Regions from separate parts of the Homo sapiens genome. Here all the other regions are linked to region 2. Evidence: fine-mapped expression QTL. A gene starts in region 2. Each other region holds a variant in brackets. All regions are shown on one strand. Distances are between the middles of the regions. Region 1 has its middle 3.3 kb from the start of LINC02416. Region 2 holds the start of PCED1B-AS1 (PCED1B antisense RNA 1). Region 3 holds the start of MIR4494 (microRNA 4494).

Region 1 (2,768 bases), 130 kb before region 2:
TTTCTACTGATATTCTATTTGTCTCTGAGTCAAAGGATAATTACAGAATCCTACATTTTGCTTTGGTTGTGTAGACCGACCCAGACTTTGGATAACAGATGGGAAAACAGACTTTGAAACTAAAAGCCCAAGAATTATTGCGCCTATTTTTATCAGGTGGTTTTGTATAATCCTCAGATTGTAAAAAAATACCCTAAAGAAAGTTGTTTGTAGAATAAAATTTATCACAGTGAGTATTGTCACAGTGAAATATTTTAATAACAAATATATTGCCAAACAAATGATGAGCCACTATTATGAACACAGTCTTAGCCTGGCTTCTGCTCTATAACAGAATACCTGAGACTAGGTAATTTATTAAAAAACAAAAACAAAAATTTATTTCTTATACATGCTGAGCATCCCAAATCTAAAAATCCAAAATCCAAAATGCTCCAAAATCTGAAACTTTTGAACGCTGACAAGAAATACTCACTGGAGCATTTCAAGTTTCAGATTTGAGATGCTCCACCAGTCAGTATAATGCAAACACTAGCAAGATTCTAGAATGGATGACTGAGTGATTATTTATGTGTATTTACATAGGTGGGAGACAGCCATTAGTAGCCCTCTAGGGCCTACTAATTTGTTGTGTTCCATACCTCTGGAAACCTGATTATTGCAAGGGTCAGATCTTAGCAGCTGAGAAAAGAGCCAATGTGGGATATCTTGAGAATAAATGTCTGAGAAACCTGTCCCAAATCAGAATGGATATTTTAGGCTGGCATATAGCCCCCTATTCCTTTAAAGTTCATGCATATACTTCACTTCCCTGATGGAAAAGGCTATAAATCTGGAAGGATCACAGATATCTCATTTAATTTGCTGAAGACACTTAGGACTCAGAATGGTGCAGATTGCTGTGTCTGGGGTTGCATAGCTGACGGGTTGCGGAACTGGGACTGCAATTCAGATCTTTCAGCCTGCCATCAGGTGAGGGCTTTTCTAAGCATCACTGCCCCAAAGGATGGAATGAATGCCTTCCATGGCTGTGGATCATCTGGGCAGGGGTAATTATTGCCTCTCTTCTCAGGATGGAGGATTGACAGACAATCATCCAAACACTCATTCTCTGGCCACTGTGTGACCAATGGCAAGCATCTGTGAAGCACTGAAAGGCTGGGGAAAGAGGGTAAGGGAGTTAGGGCTCTAAGTAGCGTCGGCGACACCAGAGCTGTGCCAGAGCCTTCTGGTGTCCTTTATCTTCATATTCTCTTTCCAGTTCAAGCTACAAACTGTGTCTTGAAACTGTTGTTTCAGTA[TA/A]AGGCACGGTATCTTAAATTTGTTAAAGTTTGCCTGAATAAATTTAAGCATGACTACTTTTAAGCATCTAGTTCACCTCTAAGAAAATCCAACTAAATCAAAAAGAAATCTGAAAAGAAAAATAACTAAGCCCACTTCACTGGCATTCACTAAATCACCACTTGTAAAGTGTCTGGCTCTCACTATGCATTTTACATGCATTGTTTAAAATCCTGACCACAATCTTATGACATAGAGATTACTTTTATTTTAAGGATAAGGAAATTGAGGCTCAGAGGGTTATCATACACTAGCAGGAAGTGGAACTTCTGAGAGTTGAACTCTCATGTTCCTCCCACTCTGATACATACTCTCTATTCACCCAACAAATATGTGTTAATTTTTTTTTTTGGAAGCATCATAGAAATTGTACCTCAAGTACTTGGAAAGACATTTGTTAAAGAAATAGAAACTTAGAGTCTGAGATCAGCCTGGCCAACATGGTGAAACCCCATCTCTACTAAAAATACAAAAATCAGCCTGGCATGGTGGTGCACGCAATCCCACCTACTCAGGAGGCTGAGGCAGGATAATCGCTTGAACCTGGGAGGCAGAGATTACAGTGAGCTGAGATCGTGCCACTGCACACCACCCTGGGCCTGGGCCACAGAGCTAGACTCTGTCTCAAAAAAAAAAAAAAGGAACTCATTTTTAAAGGCAGGCCAATACCATGTTCTATAAAATAAAATAGGTTTATAGATGCTTAAAGGGAAGTACTACTTCTGAAAAAAACAATGTGGTTTCCAGAGAAAGGTTATTTAGCCATTGATGAGGTTCTGGGACTTTATTAACCTTAATAAATGTAAGTTTGACTTTTAAAATTAAGCAAGAATAATGCAAAACTGAGGACAACTCCTGGCCCAGAGTAGAGTGTTGCCCATGGCTGGTGGATACATCATTGTAATGACACTGAGCATTCAGAAGGGCTAGTGAATATTTCAGTCTGAAGTTAACAGGAAATCAACTGTAAGGCTAATTTGTTACTGTACTAGGACACTATTTTACTGAATATAAATTACCTCTTTGGGTAGATATTTCTAGGAAAGAGATTACATTTCTCCTTGCCACATTTCTCTGCAAAGTGTTCCAAGTAACTGTCTACAGCAGAGGTTGGCAACCCTTCTGTAGCATAAATGTAGCCTGAGACAATATGTGAAAGAAAGAGAGTGGCTGTGTTCCAATAAAACTTTATTTAGAAAATGACAGAGGTGGGGAAAGGGGGCTGTAGTTTGCCCATCCCCGAACTACAGTATTAGTAAGCATTGGGTAATAAATGTCACTTCTACTTAAATGTCCAAGAGACCTGCAAAGCAAAGAATCCAAGTGCGTGTATTATTTTTTTAAAATCTCATTATGGATATTAGAGCATTCAAAGCCAACATAGAAAGTTACATTTCTTTAATGTGACTATTACCACCCTTGTTTTA
Region 2 (2,768 bases):
TTATTTTCTTTCTTTCTTTCCTTTTCTTTTCTCTCTTTCTCTTTCTTCTTTCTTTCTTTCTTTCTTTCTTTCTTTCTTTCTTTCTTTCTTTCTCTTTCTTTCTTTTTCTTTCTTTCTTTCTTTCTTTTTTTTTCTTCTTTCTCTGTCTCTCTCTCTCTCTCTGTTTCTTTCTTGTCTCACTCTGTTGCCCAAGTTGGAATTCAGTGGCGAAATCATGGCTCACTGCAGCAACTCTGCAGGCTCAATCAATCCTCCCACTTCAGCCTCCCTAGTAGCTGGGACTACAGGCCTGTGCCACCATGCCTGGCTAATTTTTATAGTTTTTTTTAGAGACAGGGTTTCATCATGTTGTCCAGGCTGGTCTTGAACTTAGACTCAAATAATCCACCTGCCTCAGCCTTCCAAAGTGCTTGGATTACGGGTGTGGGCCACCGCACCTGGACTACATATTCTAATTTTCTCCATTTTATACTTTTAAAAATTAAGGCTAAAAGATTGAGTAATCTGCCCAAGGTCATCCATTTTATAAGAAGTAGTGCTGGAAGTAAAACCTGATGCCAAGCCTTTGTGGTCAACCACAACATACAAGATTGCAGACAACAGATGCCTCACGTCCCTTCTCCAGTTCACAACTAAATTGGCTGTTTTCTTTCACTGTCCATTTTAATAAATTTACAAGTTTATCAATCACTAATATTTTTGTTATTGCCAAGCACCAGTTGTCTCTTTAGTGTTACATGGGGTGGGCTGAAGGAGGCTAGGGTGCTGATTCCTGTCTACAGTAAGTGCCCAAAAAATGATGGTCTCAAGAAAGGCTGGTCAGAAATGCCAACTTAAAGTTTCAGATAAAATGGAAAAACTGAAAAGTACTTACTCATTAAAGTAACTGGTGATTTTTAAGCATCTCTCTCAGTTGATTCTAGATCTCGTCCCTAGATAGCTTTCTTCCTCTCCTGTAGATCATTGTGACCAGACGGGAGATCTCAGAGCTTGGGCTATAGGGGAAATAGGTTAGCCTCTGGGTGCTGCTGTGCTTGCAAGCCAGCGTCTGGGGAGAAGATGACATTTCCGGTGGCATCTGGGGCAAACGACACAAGTCAGCATTTAGTTTCTTGCTTTAGGAAGCGGAAGACTAATGACCGAAGCTTCAAGACTTTGACATGTGTGAAAACATGAAATGGTAAGTCAATACAAAGACAGCATCTTCCTGGAATTTGGTTTTGAGCTTGTTTTCATTTCACCTTTCTCAGTAATCTGGGTGTAGCTTATTTTGACTCTTCCTTTGATTAAACAATTCAGACCCTTGGCTCTTATTGTTCTTGCTGGTGTGGTATGTTCACGGCTGAAAAGATGGTCAGAAGGGGAAAGGAGGAAGTGAGAAGAAAGAAACAGGGAAATGGTAAGAAGAACTCTACTTTTCTAAATAATATTTAATAGTAGTAATCTTGTGTTTCTGTGCAAGGTGTTACAGTTTACAAACCGCTTTTATTTTTATTTATTTATTTTTTTTGAGACGGAGTTTTGGTCTTGTTGCCCAGGCTGGAGTGCAGTGGCATGGTCTCGGCTCATTGCAACCTCTGCCTCCCAGGTTCAAGCGATTCTCCTGCTTCAGGCTCCGAGTAGCTGTGACTACATGCACCCACCACCACACCCGGCTGATTTTGTATTTTTAGTAGAGATGGTGTTTCACCATGTTGGCCAGTCTGGTCTCGAACTCCTTACCTCAGGTGATCCACCCGCCTTGGCCTCCCAAAGTGCTGGGATTATAGGGGTGAGCCACCATGGCAGGCCACAAACCGCTTTTAAATCCTTTCACTTCATCTCTCCACTGACGTCTTGATGGAAAAATGGCTCAGTCCACACTACAGGAAACCACAGGCCTGAGCCCCAGCCTCAGCTAGATCCAGTATGTGGCAGAGCAAGATAAGAACTTTCTGCTTCCTCCCTTAGTGTTCCACTTGAAACCAGCAGGTAACTCAAGGGGACAGCGTGCTTAAAAGGGAGATGGTTCGTCTGGCGCTGTGGCTCATGCCTGTAATCCCAGCACTTTGGGAGGCCGAGGCGGGTGGATCACCTGAGGTCAGGAGTTCGAGACCAGCCTGGCCAACATGGTGCAACTCCGTCTCTACTGAAAATACAAAAATTAGCTGGGCGTGGTGGTGGGCCCCTGTAATCCCAGCTACTCGGGGGGCTGAGGCAGGAGAATCGCTTGAACCCAGGAGGCGGAGGTTGCAGTGAGCCAAAATCGTCCCATTGCACTCCAGTCAGGGTGACAAGAGCAAGACTCCATCTTTAAAAAAAAAAAAAGGGTGGGGGAGATGGTCTTCTGATTGATTAGATAAGTGTAGGCATTTGTTTTCTTTTGTCTGGAATAATATGATTTCGGGGAGAGGAATATCACTTTCCCTACAAATACCAAGATGAAAAAGAAAAGGAAATAATGAATCAGAAAAAAAAGAGAGAGAGAAAATGCATGACTACAGAAGGTCCCAGTGCATGACTACAGAAGATCAGAATATACCACCCCCAGGTTCCCGTAATCCCAGGTCCTTGGGAGGCTGAGGCAGGAGAATCGCTTCAACCCAGGAGGCGTAGGTTGCAGCAAGCCGAGATTGCGCCACTGCACCTCAGCCTGGGCAACAGCGAGACTCCATCTCAAAAATAAAAAATATGCCACCCCAAAATATAGTTATTTGGCATATTTCGAGCTGATTATTCTGAGCAACTGCAGACACAAGAGTATCTCTGAAAAGCTGTCCTTTTGTAAA
Region 3 (2,768 bases), 150 kb before region 2:
TCAGGAGTTTGAGAGCAGCCTGGCCAACATGGTGAAATGCTGTCTCTACTAAAATACAAAAATTAGCTGGGCGTGGTGGTGCACACCTGTAATCCCAACTACTCGGGAGGCTGAGGTAATAGAATCACTTGAACCCAGGAGGCTGAGGTTGCAGTGAGCCGAGATTATGCCACCGTGCTCCAGCCTGGGCAACAAAGCAAGACTCTGCCAGAAAAAAAAAAGAGAAAAGATGCGTGTAAAAGGGCTGACTGCTGAATCCAACTTAGTCACTACTCAGTAAATGTCAGCTACTACTACTATTATTACTGAATTTCTTTTTGGAATGTTGATAGAGAACCATTACCACTTAAACCTGGGGAATTTTTCCTTGCTGTGGAAACAGGGCTTGACTTTCTAAAGATTGTGCTCCCCTCTCATGATGATTGGTGACTTCGTTTACTCATTTATAACATGTTCTGAACATCCACAACTTTGGTCCGTTTTTTTTGTATATGCAAATTTTTTGAGATATAGATTGAATGGTAGAAATGGAGAATTAATATTTGCATGAAAGGATTAATAGTTTAAAATCTTGTTTTTAACCATAAAGCAACACATTCATAAGCTGTAAAACTTACAAATGGGTATGAAATGTAAACGCCTACCTCCTTACTTACAAATCCATATTTAATGTAATTATAGCTGAAGATAATCATAGCTATTATTTCTTTTTTCTCAGATATTTGTATGTATATACATACATGTATATAAATATATGTATAAACGTGATTCTAGGAATTTTCACTTATAATGATATTGTATTCTACCTTTTTTTCCTACTTAAAACAGTTTAGTTTGGATACTTTTCATATCAAGACATAGAAATGCATTGGTTCTTTGGAACAGCTATGTAATATCCCATTTTACAGAGCCACTATAGTTTATTTAATCCTCTCTTGATGGGCATTTAAATTTTTTTTTTTTTTTTTACTATTACAAATAATAGTATCATGCTACTCCTATACAGTATATATTTGCCGCCTGGTGAAAGCGTTTCCTTGGGAAAAATTCCTGAAAGGAGAATTGCTGAGTTTAAGAGAATGTGCTTGTTAAATTTTAATAGTTATTGCCAAATTGCTTTCCAAAAAGTTGTAGCAATTTACATTTCATTAATAATACATGAGTGGTCCTGTTTCCCACACTCTTGAGTAAGATCAACATTTTACAGTAGTTCTCCTTTATCCATGGGATTATACCATGCTGCACAATTTAAAATGTATAAGTTGTTTGTTTCTGGAATTTTCCATTTAATACTTTGTTTTCTGAAGTTTTAGTTACCCTGGTCATCTGCAGTCTGAAAATACAAAATGGAAAATTCCAGACTGTGGCTGACCAGAGGTAACTGAAACCTCAGAAAGTAAAACCATAGAATGGGGTTGGGTGGGGTGGGTGCAAGCTCCA[G/A]TATTTTTGCAAAATATACAAAGTGAAAAACAGTATCTTGTTTTAACTTACATTCCTTGATTTTTTTAGATAGCTAAAAATGTTATGTGTTTATTGGCTGTTTGCTTTGTTTTTGTTGCAAACTTATTTTTCTATTGAATTGTTCAGTTTTCTGTTGCTGATTTTTTAATTGCTTTGTATATAAAAGAAATTAACCCTCTTCCTGTTATATAAATTGCAGACTTTTTTTTTCTATCCTGTGGTTTATCTCTTGACTTTACGGTATTCTAGTCTTGAAAAAGTTTTAACTTTTATATAAGTAAATTTATCAATCTTATCTTTTATGTCTGTCACTTTTCCCCAGTTAAAAATTATGAGAAAAAGATCAATGATTTTTCCAGTATTGTTATGGTTTCATATTTTACATTCAAGTTATTGATCCACATAGAATTTGTTTGGGCATAAGATACTTCTGCACTTTTTCCCCCAATGGCATGTTCATCACAACATTTCTGAATTATTCATATTCTCCCATTAACTTTAAAATACCACCTTATTTATATTTTATTTTATTTTATTTTTTTGAGACAAAGTCTTACTCTGTCACCCAGGCTGGAGTGCAGTGGCACAATCATGGCTTACTGCAGACTTGACCTCCAGGGCTCAAGTAATCCTCCCACCTCAGCCTCCCAAGCAGCTGTGACTACGGGCATGCACCAGCACACCCAGGTAATTTTTATATTTTTTGTAGAGACAGGGTTTTGCAATGTTGCTCAGGCTGGTCTCGAACTCCTGAGCTTAAGTGATACACCCACCTCAGCCTCCCAAAGTGCTGGGATTACAGGCCTGAGCCACTGCACATGGCCTTATATTAATATTAATACTTTAAGTTCTTAAAGGTATTTGGGTCTGTTTCTGGGGTCTTTATTCTCCATTAACAGCTTTCTTATTTCTTATAATTTCTCTACCTATAAAATATCTTAATATTGGATAAAACTATTTCTTCATTATTTCATTTACAGTTGTATTGGCTATTCTCACTCCTCTATTATTCTACAAGACCTTTACAACATTTTGTCAGTCTCCAAAAAAATCCTATTGATATTTTGATTGGAATTACAATTGCTTCAGGGAAAAGAAACTATATTGTTTCATTCACTCCTATCTTTCGGGTTCCCATATTAATCAGGATAGGATGGACTGTTGCAAGAATAATTAAATTTTCAAATCCCAGGGTATTATTTCAACAAAATTTTGTTTCTCACTCATGTAAATTCCTGTGCAATTGGGCCACTCTCCAGGACAGGGGTCCTCACTTTAGGGGCCCCACTGTCCAGGCTGTTTTGATC

The links. PIP is the estimated chance that this variant, and not a neighbour inherited with it, causes the effect.
Region 1: its variant is fine-mapped to the expression of PCED1B-AS1 in whole blood (TOPMed, PIP above 0.99).
Region 3: its variant is fine-mapped to the expression of PCED1B-AS1 in whole blood (INTERVAL, PIP above 0.99).

Annotation. Positions count from the first base shown.
Region 1 is chr12:47,349,053-47,351,820 of GRCh38, reverse strand. No RefSeq gene overlaps it. Among named protein-coding and RNA genes, the nearest start is that of LINC02416, 3.3 kb to the left of the region's middle. The variant TA/A (reference allele first, on the strand shown) is at 1,302.
Region 2 is chr12:47,214,796-47,217,563 of GRCh38, reverse strand. PCED1B-AS1 (PCED1B antisense RNA 1) reads left to right here and starts at 1,121. Exons shown (of 3, transcript NR_026544.1): 1 at 1,121-1,180; 2 at 1,300-1,399. It overlaps PCED1B (PC-esterase domain containing 1B), which reads right to left. Exons shown (of 4, transcript NM_138371.3): 3 at 875-1,342.
Region 3 is chr12:47,362,807-47,365,574 of GRCh38, reverse strand. The region is part of intron 1 of LINC02416 (long intergenic non-protein coding RNA 2416); the gene reads right to left. It overlaps MIR4494 (microRNA 4494), which reads left to right and starts at 1,306; the gene lies at 1,306-1,389. The variant G/A (reference allele first, on the strand shown) is at 1,441.